Homo sapiens: one gene and its partner. The protein of the gene in region 1 purifies or fractionates together with the protein of each later gene. This does not show direct contact. Each region holds a gene or a part of one and is shown in the gene's direction. Other genes may lie near its edges.

The links.
Region 2: the proteins of SMIM43 (region 1) and LMBR1 purify together in Homo sapiens (affinity purification with mass spectrometry; 2 studies listed by BioGRID and IntAct, with this or other methods). This does not show direct contact.

The regions. Positions count from the first base shown.
Region 1 is NC_000004.12:121,762,914-121,770,075, reverse strand, and holds the start of SMIM43 (small integral membrane protein 43), read left to right. Parts: upstream 1-4,911; 5' UTR 4,912-4,970; coding exon 4,971-5,162; 3' UTR 5,163-5,259; exon of another isoform or gene 5,260-5,491; intron 5,492-6,203; 3' UTR 6,204-6,312; intron 6,313-7,162. UniProt on the Homo sapiens protein: Required for mesendoderm differentiation. Interacts with glucose transporters and promotes glucose uptake. Probably augments the glucose uptake capacity of glucose transporter proteins to meet the energy needs of mesendoderm differentiation.
Region 2 is NC_000007.14:156,883,181-156,890,207, reverse strand, and holds part of LMBR1 (limb region 1 protein homolog), read left to right. Parts: intron 1-7,027. UniProt on the Homo sapiens protein: Putative membrane receptor.

The DNA.
Region 1 (7,162 bases):
AAGAGGTGAAGGTGTAAAGAGCAAATCCTGTCATGGGGTGTTACAGTAACAGCTGATGAACTTTATACAACTCCCTCAGGCAGAACAATTCACTTTTCTGTTCTCCTATAGCAGCAAACATTCTCTTAGCCTTTCTAATTCTGATCTAGAGGGTTGTAGGGGTGATAAAGAGTATAAACAAGGAGCAATTTCAAAGAGGTCCAGTTTGTATCTCCTCCACAGAAATGAACATGGTGGTGTTTTTGTGTACGGGGCAGAAGCAAGGGAGATGAGGTGCCACAGAGGCGTGAATAGTATGGCTGGGATATTTCTGGGCCATTGGAGTCACCAAGATCATTGGGGCTGATTCAGGTCCTAACTAGCGAGGACAGTGTCCTAGGGCCTGGAAGCTTCCAAGGGGTATGGACCTCATCTCCAGCACATGCATGGGTGCTTTAAGGTGATCCCATCTAAGCAGTTCTTATGGCCTGCAGTACCTGGGAAGGTGTGCTGTTACTTAAGAACCTGTCTTACCAGCCAGGTTAACAACACATCTCAAGTCCAGAGCATGTTGCAAAACATTTGTTTTTTGGAGGGGTTCATGTCAGGCCAAGTTGAGTCAGCCTCAGACAGGTGCCCGGAAATCTCTTTTTCTCTTGTCTCCCAATCTTATCCTGCCCTTCTCCTGGGGAAGCTGCTTCCATCCTCCAGTTTCCCACAACAGGTAAGTCCAGGTAGGATTGTGACAGTAGATTTTTACAGCCCTTTCTAGGTGTCTTCTTAGGTGTTTAGACACTTTATAGAAGCACATTTACAAGACACATAAACCTTTCTGTTCCTGGCATTAATCATTTCTCATAAATATCTATGATGCTTGTTATGATCAAATACCTGCTTCCTATAAGAGGTGAGAGTGGGGAGGAATAAGGTGGGAAAGGGAAGGGGAACCCTCATCTTGCCCATGCCACAGAGGTCCATAGGCTAAGACCTTGGGCAGCTCCGGGGCAATATCTAGTTGTTTTGAGACCCACAGGGAGGAGACTGAGAAGATGAAAGATGCATGAAGTCTAACTCTGAGTGGGGGACGAGGCACGCTGTTAGTGGGAGTGTATGTGTGGTCCACACTGTGGGCAGCCGGATGAGATTGTAGTGACACAGCTCCCTCCACCTACCCATTTGTGCATCTTTTAGTTGCTGGAAGCAGCAATGCTCTTATCTATAGTGAGTATCCTTTCTGCTTTTTAAAATGCTTGGGTTTTCTTTCTATGAATTTCCATTAATGAGCATCTTTAGGAAGAGAAAGATTCTGCTTTATTCATATGGAGTCATTTATACAATATAAACTGAAGTTCAGAGCCTTTTATGAGATACATAAATATGACCAGAGGCTGAAAAACATTGGGAGCATCCACTAAATGTAATATGTTATTTTTCGTGGCAGCAATATTATTTTAAATACAAATTCTACGGAGAGTGAATATAAGAATTTATTAGTTAACACCTATAACCTATAAATCCATTTAAGCTGCTCAGATAAATGGATAATCTAAATAGTTATGGTTAGAAAGGCTGACATGGGTTGAGCTTGGCAACATAAAACCTTCATCCGTTGGCCTTTTCCCACAGCATTCTGCAGGCAAACACTGGCTCATTTGAAGTTCTGACCTTCAAGATTTCAAAAGTAGGAGCTGAGATGCAGAAGGCATATGTCTCTTGAAATGTGTTTCTTTTTAGTCTGACGCTCAAAAGAAAAAAATATGGTGATTAATTTGATGGTCATGCACACAAAAGTATACTTTTCCCTGAGAGGCAGTACAATCATGAGGGTTGGGAGTGCAGGCTCTGGAGCCAGACTTCCTGGGTTCACATCCCTCTCCTGCCACTTGCCAGCGGTGTGGTCTTCAGCAAGTCACTTAACCTCTCCATGCTTCAGTTTTCATCCTTAGATACCTTGGATATCTGGATGGCAATGTGCCAAATCACATGCCTTTCCGACCAAACACCTCGTTAATTAAGAGTGCTTAACATGTGCAAAGTACTTAAGCAATGCTTTCTTAATTGGTTAGCATTCTCCTTTGAAAACTGGCGCTAACCACTCTGCCTCGCAGCAAGATTTCCTGGAAAGCCAGTGGAAGGTTACGGAATGGAAAGAAAGCAGGAGGGCCCAGTCTGGGCCAGGAGTTGAGGATGCTGTCGAAGCAGGTAGCAGTAGCCATGGCTAGGTCACTCTTGGGACTGTTCTGGCACTCAGATTGCCTGTGCAACGGGGATGCATCTGACTTCCGAACATTCCTCCTGTTCTGTCAACTCCCAAGATTCAGAGTACTGGAGACAAGGATATTTAGCTAAATTTCTGGCATAGCTCTTCCTGCCCTCCTCCCCACACTGTATCAGGAGTGGGTAAAAGATATATCTGATCCCCTTGGTTTCCATAACAGGAGGTGGCAAGGGAAAGTAGGCACTGGGATCTGTCTTCTTGCCAAGATTACATAAAATGGAGAATTCCACCCGTAGGAACATGTGGTGCTTAGAGTGGAGGTGTGTGGATTCTGGGCAGTCAAAAAAAAAAAATCACAAATCTTTGCTAAACTTGTATAAGACTTCAAATTTCTCTCAATAGTCCCACGAGCAGTGTTGTGCTGGTTAATTTAACAACTGCCTCCCTGGTCCTGATTTGTAGCATTTGTCCATTTTCTCAAGGCAAACCCACTCATCATGGCTAATTTCAAGCTACCAACATGACAGCACTGAACACAGCTGGGAAGAGATGCGCAGTAACATACCACTATGCAGCATCTTCACCACACAGCTACAACAGATGTAAATAACCTCAAGTGCATAGACAGCAGTGAAATGTAGTACTGAGGTTGGTGCAAAAGCAATCACGGTTTTTGCTTTTAATGACAAAAACCGTGATTGCCTTTTTACCAACCTAATAAAATAATTAGAAAGTGATGAGTTTGGAGTATTAATTACCTTTGTTGTTAACATAATTGTAGGTTTATATAATTTAACTTTTAATAATAGCTGGAATTTAAAAATTGGTTTACAAAATTTAACAATCAGCTCCTGTGAGTCATTACGAGCCAGCTCCAGCATACCACTGCCTATGAAGTGGATCAATATAATGTTATTGAGAGAGAGACAAAGAGAAAATGAAAGAAAGATTCTTCTCACTTATGCACTAAGATGCTTGATGGAGAGGCCTAGGGCCTGGAAATTTTGTACAATAGCTTGTAGCATTGGGGGCCCTTCGTAATAGAATAATAACAGTATCTGACATTTATATAGCAAAACACATTTTTATTTAACATTTTCTCATTTTTGAGCCTCACAACAAATCCAAGGGAAAGATAAGCAAGGCATGTTACAGATGAGGGGACTGAGAGTCACTGAGCAAAAGTGACCACTGACAGAGCTGACACTAGAATCGGGTCCATGAGACTTGCAGTTCACAGACTGTTTTCATACCACCCTGTCTCTTTGAACCCCTGTCATCCCTGGAGCAGCCACTTATTACAATCTGGGATGTTGTCAGCCCTCATCCCCAGAATTCAGTCCAGGAGGCAATTCTGCATCTTCACAAATAAAGAATAAAATAAAGTTAGGCCTACAAATGGGCAATGATAGCTGGCTGTATTAACAGCTGTCATAGCCGACTCTAAGATGAGCCCCAGTGATCCTTACTCCTTGGCGTTCGTGTCCTTGGACTCCTACCCTGAATAGGGCTGACCTGTGTGACCAGTAGGATATTACAGATCTGATGGCACGTGACTTCTGAAGCTGGCGGTAAAGAGCACTGCAGCCTCTGCTTTGTTTTCTTTCATCACTTGTTCTGGGGGAATCCCGCAGCTGTATTGGAAGCACCCATGGAAGGGAACTGAGGCCTCCCACCAACAACCAGCCCTACCTGGCAAGCAGTGAGTGAGCCACCCTGGAAGTGGATCCTCCACCTCTACACAAGCATTCAGCTGAAGGCAGACCTGGCTGACATCTGAACGGAGCCTCATGAGTAACCCGACACCAGAATCACCCAGCCAGTGCTCCCACATTTCGGACCCACAGAAACTGTGAGAGATGATCAATGTTTATGCTGTTTGAAGCCACTAAATTTGGGGGTAATTTGTTCTGCAGTAATAGATACACTGAACAGCTTTTAAAGCTGCGCGATATGGGCTTTGGGTCACGTCAACCAGATACAGAAAGGCTTTAGGGACTCAAGAAACACTTTGAGTAAACTTGTTTTCCTCTTTTCACCAAATAAACTGAATTTGAGGCCAATATTTGAAATCTTTGTGCTATATAACTTCTGAAATACATTGTATTCTTAATGCGTTTCCAAGTGACCTGTTGTCCATAGAAAAGTACACTCAACACTGAATGTATCTGCTACTCTGAAGAGCAAGACAGCTCGAACTGGAATTCACTCAGACACCTCATAGCACGAAATCATCTCATAGCCTTTCAGACCCCATCTTCACTGCCACCTTTCATTCTTTTGGGTCTCTGGGCCATGACATCCCCTGTCCTTTCGGAAAGCAGGAACGGAGGGATATAACGAAATAAATTAATTGGGAACGCAGCGGAGCTAGGGACCCTACTGGATGTTGGGGGTGGAACTTTTAAATCATTTACAAAACACCAGTCCCGACCTCCCCTGGAAGACTGAGCTGTTACCTCTTCTGGCGTCCGTGCCCGCGGAAGTTCGCTCCTAGGGAAGTCGCTCGCGTCCTCAAGAGCACCTGAGAGGATCTCGGCGAAGCGGAAGGCTTTGGTGCCAGCTGGGAGAGTCTGCGCCGGATTTCCTCAGCTCCTTGGCGCGTTTCCTCGGAGCCGGGGGAGGCAAAGCACGGACCCCGGAGTCGGCGCCCATAGCGGGACGCCCTCGCGAGGGGCGGGAGTGCGGGAGGTGGGTGTGCGGGCGGCGCGCTCGCCCTCCAGCTGCAGCCCGCGCCGAGCGCGCAGGGCCAGCGAGCGCCGGCGCCTCCAGCATGGAGTGGGAACTCAACTTGCTGCTCTACCTGGCGCTCTTCTTCTTCCTGCTCTTCTTACTTTTCCTCCTGCTCTTCGTGGTCATCAAGCAGCTGAAGAACTCCGTGGCCAACACGGCCGGGGCGCTCCAGCCCGGGCGCCTCTCGGTGCACCGCGAGCCTTGGGGCTTCTCCCGAGAGCAAGCGGTGTGACCCGAGTGCGGGCACTGGCGGGAGGGCACCGAGCTGCGCGGGCGCTGGGCTGGGTCTCCGCCTCGATTCTCCGTCCTCGCGGCCTCCCAGCTTCCAGGTGCGGGGCTCGGCGGCTCTGACGGGTCCGTTCCGGCGTGAGGCGCAGGGACCCGCGTCTCCGCTCCTGTGGGAGGCCCGGGGCTCGCAGCGCGTTCGGGTGCCAGGGACGGTGGGTGTATGGGGTCTGGGCTGGCGCTGTGCTCTTCGAGAGGGACCCTAAGCTGTTCCAGGGCTGGGAGAGATGGCGAAAAGAGAATTCGCCCTTTGGAGCCGGAATGACTTTGGACAACTGCAAGCTCTTTTCTGTCCAACTGCATTTTAGTTATACCCAAGGAGTGGAAAAGTAAATTATTCGGATAATGCAGTTTAGCCACTTTCGAACAAAATCGCAGGTTAACCTGAATATCCACATTTTTGAGAAAGACTGTGTGGGCTTTGGGACGGGTGGCAGGAGGAAACGGGGCGCACTTAAAGTATTTTAAATATTGCTTTAAATATTTTTGCGCTTTGAGAGATGGTAAATGGGGTTCGTCTGGTGGTGCTGGGGTGGGGCGTGGGGGAGAGAAGATTCAGTCGTCCATTTGGAGGGAGGAATCCCTTCCTCCCGGTGATCCTTACTCATATTCTAGCCACCAACCACGGTTAGTGCTTGCGGATTGCCGTGCAGGGTAGGTTTCGAATCTGGGACAGCGGATGGTGAACGTTACAGTGAGAGTCATTTGGAAGATGCCTTAGGGTTGGCCGGTACGTGACCTTTTGGGTGATGGCATGGAGGGCCAGCTAAAAGAGGTACTGTTTGCATAGTGTAGGGAAACAGGAAAAAGGACGGAGAGGCGGGTCTGTGGTTTCAGGTTAAATTACTAGAGCTTTTGCAGAAGATGGGCGGGCAGGAGCAAACTCGAGTACCAGTATGCCCTAAGTACCCTCTCGCTAATGTTAGTTTGGGAAATATCTTCATCCTTCAGTAGCTTTTCCCTAGATTTATGTCATCTCTCTTTCTAGAGCCGAGCTGCTGCCCTTGACTGGTGCTCAGGGGACCACAGCTGCAATGACAGTTTGGGCCTGCAAAAAGAAGGCTGGAACAACGGGAGATGGAAGCTTTCTGCAAATGGTAAGTTGGGATGACGCATGGTTTCACGTTGGCCTTAGTTATGACTAAACTTCTAAAGATCCAGGGCCTAAAAACATGTTGGTTCAGGATGGGGGAAATGGGTACAAGGAAGGAAAGGGCACTCTCCCACTCAAATCTGGTGAGCTTCTACCAGATCCACAAAGCCAAACTGACTCCTAACTCATTGCAAGAATCAGTGTCTTAGTAGAGGATTGTGGAAATTTGAATGAGATGTCAGGAGTGTTTGCACTTTTAATAATCATTCGGCCCTTTTGAAAAACAGTGCGGGGGTTCATGGGGTGAAATATGTGATGCAGATATACTCAATCTTCAGTAAGGGAAGATTTGGGTTTAGTCATGTCAGTGTGGGATAAGCTAAGTCATAACTATAGTATTGAAAATACTAATTTTAGACACAAAGACCATATAGAGAGGCTAAAAACAATGAAATACTAAAGTTTGCCTAAGTTGATAATATAAAAGTGAAGTGTAAGACAATTATTTTAATGCTTCAAAGGAAAAATAGTCTCAGGTGAATAATTTTGGCCCAAGACATTAGATAATTTCCCACTTTCTATTTCACTCTCCCCAAATAGGCCTGTTCTTAATGAAGTAAGAGGTTTACTTTAATTATTATGGTATGAGCAAATCCTCACCTCTTTATCAGAGTTATGGTAAGACTTGATTTGAATTCCCAGTTTGAACTCCCTGAATCAACTGCAGTGATTCTGTATTGTGCTTTGAACAATAGTTCTCTAATTGGTTGATATCTCTGCAGTGGCATTTAGTTAAAAGGTTGTATGGTTAATATGGACATTGAAGATGAGTGTGGGAGTAATTAATTAGCAAT
Region 2 (7,027 bases), on another chromosome or scaffold:
TTGCAATCTATTTCGAATTTATTTTTTTGTGTCTGGTGCAAGGTAGGAGTCATATTTTTTTCTCCCACAGGAATGTCCAATTGCTTCAGCACTATTTAGGACTTTTGTCACAGATAGGTAACTGTATATTCATAGGGTTTAATTTTGGACTTTATGTGGTTTTATTGGTCTATTTGTCTTTAGTTTTATTATTTTTTAAAATTTGAGACAGGTTCTCCCTCTGTTGACCAGGCTGTCGTGCAGTGGCGCAATCATGGCTCACTGCAGCCTTGACTTCCAAGGCTCAGGCGATCCTCCCACCTCAGCTTCCCAAGTAGCTGGGACTACAGGCTTGAATCATACAGGTGTGCACTAACAGACCCAGCTAATCTTTTAATTTTTTGTAGAGGTGAGGTCTCACCGTGTTGCCCAGACCTGTCTCCTGGGCTCAAGTGATCCTCCTGCTCTTTGGCTTTACTTTTAATTAATTAGATATTCTAGAATTTGGGTTGAGAAAGGGACACATTGTAAAACAGTCCAGAGCTTCGTCTACTCCCCTGAAAACGGTTTTGGTACCGATTATGGAGTTCTTTAGTTCTGACTCTCCTCACCTGTTTCCCTCAACCCAGTACCCCTGGCTGGTTGAGTCTACTCCATCTTCTACAGAACCAGCGCAGACAGTGACCAGGCTCAGGGTTCCCAGTCTTTGGCATTTCTTTCTCAAATGATTTATATTTAGAGTGAATGTAAATACTTTTTCTCTAAGACCTGTTGCCAATTTTTAAAATTATTCAATTCTTTCTGATTTTGCTACATAATGCTATAATTGCTTAACTTTTTTATCATAATAAGATATATATATATAACATGCAATTTACCATATCTAAATATACAGTTCAGTGGCGTTAAATACATTCACATTGTTGTGCAACCACCACCACTATCCATTTCCAGATCTTTTTCATCAACTGAAACTTGATACCCATGAAACAGTAACTCTCCATTCTTCACTCTCTCCAGCTGCTGGTTCTGCCTATATGAATCTGACTATTCCCAGTTGAACCATACAATATTTGTCCTTTTCTATCTGGCTTATTTCACTTAGCATAATGCCTTCAAAGTTCACCTGTGTTGTAGCATGTGTCAAAATTTCTTTTTCTTTCTTTTTTTTTTTTGAGACAGAGTCTTTCTCTGTTGCCCAGGCTAGAGTGCAGTGGCGTGATCTCGGCTCATTGCAACCTCTCCCTCCCTGGTTCAAGCAATTCTCCTGCCTCAGCCTCCCGAGTAGCTGGGATTACAGGCATGCGCCACCGCACTTGGCTAATTTTTGTATTTTTAGTAGAGATGGGTTTCACCATGTTGGCCAGGCTGGTCTTGAACTCCTGACCCCAGGTGATCCACCTGCCTCAGCCTCCCAAAGTGCTGGGATTACAGGTGTGAGCCACTGTGCCTGGCCTCATTTTTTAATTTTTTGTAGAGATGGGGTTTTTGCTATGTTGCCCAGGCTGTTCTTGAACTCCTGGCCTCAAGTGATGCACCCACCCTGGCCTCCCAAAGTGCTGGGATTACAGGCGGGAGCCAACGTGCCTGGCCCAGAATTTGTTCAGGCTGAATAATATTTTCTTTTTGTGTATACTGTATTTTGCTTACCCATTCATTCATCAATTGACCTGAGTTGTTTCTGTTTTTGGCTATTGTGAATAATGCTGCTGTGATCATGGGTATGCAAATATCTATTAGAGTCCCTGCTTTCAATTCAGAAGTAGAATTGCTGGATCATATGATAATTCTATGTTTAATTTTTTTTTTTTTTTTTTTTGAGACAGAGTCTCGCTGTGTTTCCCAGGCTGGAGTGCAGTGACTCAATCTCGGCTCACTGCAAGCTCCGCCCCCCCGGTTCATGCCATTCTCCTGCCTCAGCCTCCCGAGTAGCTGGGACTACAGGCACCCGCCACCACGCCCAGCTAACTTTTTGTATTTTTAGTAGAGACGGGGTTTCACCATGTTAGCCAGGAAGGTCTTGATCTCCTGACCTCGTGATTCGCCCGCCTCAGCCTCCCAAAGTGCTGGGATTACAGGCGTGAGCCACCACGCCCGGCCTCTATGTTTAATTTTTTTGAGGAACTGCCATACCATTTTCCACAGAGGCTGTACCATTTTATATTCCCACTAGCAAGGAGCCAGAGTTTCTGGTTCTTCCGCATCTTCACCAACACACATTGTTTTCTGTTTTTCTTCTTTTTTTTAAAATGGATGTGAAATGGTATCTGATGCTGGATTTGATTTGCATTTCCCTAATTATAAGTGAAGTTCAGCATTGTTTCATGTGCTTATTGACTATATGGACATCTTCTTTGGAGAAATATCTGTTCTTTGCCTGTTTTTGAATTGAGTTGCTTGATTTTTGTTGTTTAGTTTTAGGAGTTCTTTATATATTCTGAATATTAACCCCTTATCAGACATGTGATTTGCAAACACTTCTCGCCCATTCTGTAGGGTTGCCTTTTTACTCTATTGCTAGTGTCCTTTGATGCACAAAAGTTTTTAATTTTGTAGTCCAATTGATCTATTTTTTCATTTGTTGCCTGTGTTTTTTTGTGTCATATCCAAGAATTCATCACCAACTGGCATCATCACCAACTGGCATCATGAAGGTTTTCCTCTAAGAGTTGTATAGTTTTAGCTCTTAGGTTTAGGTCTGATCCATTTTGAATTAATTTTTTTGTACAATATAGTGTTTAACTTTTTTTTTTTTTTTTTTTTTTGAGATGGAGTCTCACTCTGTCGCCAGGTTGGAGTGCAGTGGCACAATCTCAAGGCTCACTGCAACCTCCGCCTCCCGGGTTCAGGCAATTCTCCTGCCTCAGCCTCCCGAGTAGCTGGGACTACAGGCGAGCGTCACCACACCCAGCTAATTTCTGTACTTTTAGTAGAGACGGGGTTTCACCATGTTGGCCAGAATGGTCTCAATCTCTTGACCTCGTGATCTGCCGCCTCGGCCTCCCAAAGTGCTGGGATTACAGGCGTGAGCCACCGCGCCCAGCCTAGTGTTTAACTTTTAAATACTCATGTAATAATTTTGTCTTTTGTATTATGAATATCTCATAGTTCTCTTGTCAGTTGCTTTAGTGATCATATTTGACTTTGGCTATTAGTATCAGGTAGTAATGATTGATTTCCTTTCTTTTGAGAGCTAGCTATGAAATCCTAAGGCTGCCAGCTAACTGAGTATACCCTCTCTTGGCTAAGGGGACCCCAGGAAACCTTAAAAACTGAATTCCCAACCAGAATGGGATGGGACATCTGACACGCCTCAGTATACCCCCTCCCTTTTGAGGTTTAAACACAGCTGACCAGCATTAATGTTAAAATAGAGATCTGAAGACTGAGAGAACAGACTCTTTGTGGCAATAAAATACCCAACTGTGAACAAAATGTAGGGCCATGCCAGGCAAGGGTTAAGTAAAGCATCCCCTTAAAGAATAAACTGGTTCTAACTGCCTCAAGGTGTTTCTTTTTTTCTAGCGGCTAAACAAGCACTGGCCTCCAGATAAGCAATATTAAGATAACTGCAGCTCACTCACTGCCAGACCCTAAGTGATCCCCACTCTCCTGTTCCACAAGCCATAACTATAGCTTTGATTGGACAAGAGACTGATTTCAGTAACTTTCTCCTGATAAGAGCACTGAGCATGAACTGGTTCTGGCCAGTTTACAGAGGCTGTGCACTTCAGTGCCTTCATGTCCCTGCTTCGCCATCTGACTACAGGGCCTCATTGTAATCCTTTTAGATGTTAAGTCTCCACCCACAAGTGAATATGGATAAGTATGTAACATACATGTTTATTCAGCCTGCATGTGCATGACCTCCCCCACTTTGTGAATATTCATAGCTCCTCCTATAACCTGTTAAATATATAAACTTGGCCAACCCGTTCAGCATAAATCCCTGTTCTATCCTCCCTTGAAGGTCTGTTTCTGTGCTCTGCGGGAGGATGCTTCCCAGCTATCAGGATTGCCACCTTGTAGGCTGTGACTCTTTACAAAATTATTTTTGAGGCAGAGTGTGGTTCCGTCACTCAGGCTGGAATGCTGTGGCACAAACACGGCTTACTGTAGCCTCTATCTCCCAGGCTCAAGAGATCTTCCTACTTGAAGGAAGTCTTTTTTTTTTTTTTTTTCTTTTTTTGAGGCAGAGTCTCACTCTGTCACCCAGGCTGGAGTGCAGTGGCACTATCTCAGCTCACTGCAACCTCTACCTCCTGGGTTCAAGCAATTCTTGTGCCTCAGCCTCTTGAGTAGCTGGGATTACAGGTGCCACCACCATGCCTGGCTAATTTTATTTATTTATTTATGATATGGAGTCTCTGTCACCCAGCCTGGAGTGCAGTGGCACAATCTCGGCTCACGATAACCTCTGCTTCCCGGGTTCAAGTGATTCTCCTGCCTCAGCCTCCCAGTAGCTGGGATTATAGGTGCCTGCCACCATGCCCGGCTAATGTTTTTGAATTTTTAGTAGAGGCAGGGTTTTACCATGTTGGCCAGGCTAGTCTCAAACTCCTGACCTCAAGTGATCCTCCTGCCTTGGCCTCCCAAAGTGCTGGGATTACAGGTGTGAGTCAATGCGTCTGGCCATTTTTGTATGGACGGGTTATTTCCGTGTTACCCAGACTGGTCTTGAACTCTCCTGGCCTCAAGTAATCCTCCTGCCTCAGCTTCCCAAAGTGCTAGAATTAGAGGTGTGAGCCACCATGCCTGGCCTGGCTGCGCAATCTAAATTCTTCCTTATCCTGGGTATGGCTTAAGCTCCCCTCTTGGCTAGAATATTTTTGGAACCAAGTCTGGGGTTGACTGGGACTTTTTTTTTTTTTTCTTTTACACGGAGTCTCGCTCTGTCACCGAGGCTGGAATGCAGTGGAGCGATCCTGGCTCACTGCAACCTCCGCCTTCCAGATTCCAGTGATTATCCTGCCTCAGCCTCCCAAGTAGCTGGGATTACAGGCGCCTGCCACCATGCCTGGCTAATTTTTGTATTTTTAGTAGAGATGGGGTTTTGCCATGTTGGCCAAGCTGGTCTTGAACTCCTGACCTCAGGTGATCCGCCCCTGCCTCGGCCTCGCAAAGTGCTGGGATTACAGGCATGAGCCACCGTGCCCAGCCAGACTGGGACTTACACAACAGAGATTTTAGAACCTTCCCATTTAGTTGGCTCCTTTTAGGCCAAATGGGAGGTGGGGAGATAATGGGGATAGAAGTATCCTTCATCTACTGCCTCTCTAGATGAGTTTACCTGCTGTTTTCTACTGGTGTCTTGCCCTCAACTCTATGGCTTACCCTTTATGCAGGAGATAAAAAACTTTAGTCCTTCCCACTTGGGAATAGTGGTTGGGCAGAAGGTGGGAACCAATCACCAATCTTGTATGTAAGTTCAGAATGCAGTTATCTTGGAGTCTGTAGTCTTCTGACCTTTGTCATTGCCCTCCAGTGAAAGACCTCCAAGAGCACACCTGTAGTTGGACAAATTGGGCTTATTGCATATTTCAGTGAGTTCCATGGGGAACTGTGGGGTGTTTCAGTAACTTTTCAAATGGGATTTGGGCTTCTACTAGGTAGTTTGGGAAGGGTTTAAGGAAGTGAGGCTTTGATCTGTATGGGGTGCTGTTAGGAAGCTGGAAAAATTCTGTAACTGGATAGCTTAAGAAATCTTTTCTAGAAGGAAAGAAGACTGGAATAAAGCTAAAGCTGTAACTGGTAAAGAAGCAACAGTCATTCCTGTTAGCCAGGATAGAGAGTTGGTCATTTCTGTGATTTGGACAATGTTCATGTTTTTTTTTTTGCTTGTGTTCAGGAGTGATTACAGAGTGGTCTTGTTTAGTCTTTATCCATCATGGTCTTGTCTGATATTGATGTTCTCTGAAATTGTTGATGTTCAGCAGAAGAGTCAGTCATCAAGGCCTAGGTGTGTGCCTTGCTCTGAGTTGTTAGCCAGTTTACAGCAACACCAAGGCCCAGCTGTGATATTACCAGGCCAGCTCCCAGATGTCAGGGGCTGCATTTCTTTTTCTCACGTGGTTGTAAAGTCTTCTAGTGGAATGATGTATTAGAAACAAATCCAATAGCCAACATAAGTTGAAGTGATTTTCTAACATAGAAGAGCAAAAAGGAATGGGATAGAGGTATAGAGGTTTCATTTGTATTTGACTTTTCTAAACTGGGTTAAATCAGCTTCCCCTCTGCGGTAGGCAGCATAATGGCCCCTGAAGTTGGTAATCCATGTGGTAATCCCTGGAGCCTGTGGTGTGTTACTTTACATGGGTAAAGGGATTTTGCAGATGTGAGTATGTTAAAGGAGAATTACCCTGAATTATCCAGGTGGGCTCTATGTGGTCACAGGGTCCTTATAGGAGAGGCAGGAGGGTCAGAGTCAGAGGAGATGTGATGACAGAGGCAGAGTTGGAGTGATGCCCTTTGAGGAAGGAGGAGGGACCATGAGCCAAGGAGTGTGGGCGGCCTCCAGAAGCTAGAAACGTCAAGGAAATGAATTCTTTCCTAGAGTCTCCAGAAGGAAGCAACCTTGCTCACGCCTTGATTTTAGCCCAGTGAAACTCAATAAATTTGTGTTGTTTTAAGTCACAAAGTTTGTGTAATTTGGTTACAGCAGCCATAGGAGATTCCTACTCCTTCATCAGGAGGCTTTGACTTTCACTGCTGTCCCTGTATATCTTACCACTCCATAGTTGTGTACTTGAGGTTAAAGGAAACTGGGACATTCTAATTACATTTGAGATAATTTTTCATGTCTTCCTATTCTGTCCTCCTTTTTTTTTTCTGAGATGGAGTCTTGCTCTGTTGCCCAGGCTGGAGTGCAGTGACATGATCTTGGCTCACTGCAGCCTCCGCCTCCCGAGTTCAAGCAATTCTCCTGCCTCAGCCTCCCAAGTAGCTGGGATTACAGGTGTGCACCACCACACCTGGCTAATTTTTGTATTTTCAGTAGAGACAGGTTTCACCTGTTGGCCAGGGTGGTCTTGAACTCCAGACCTCAGGT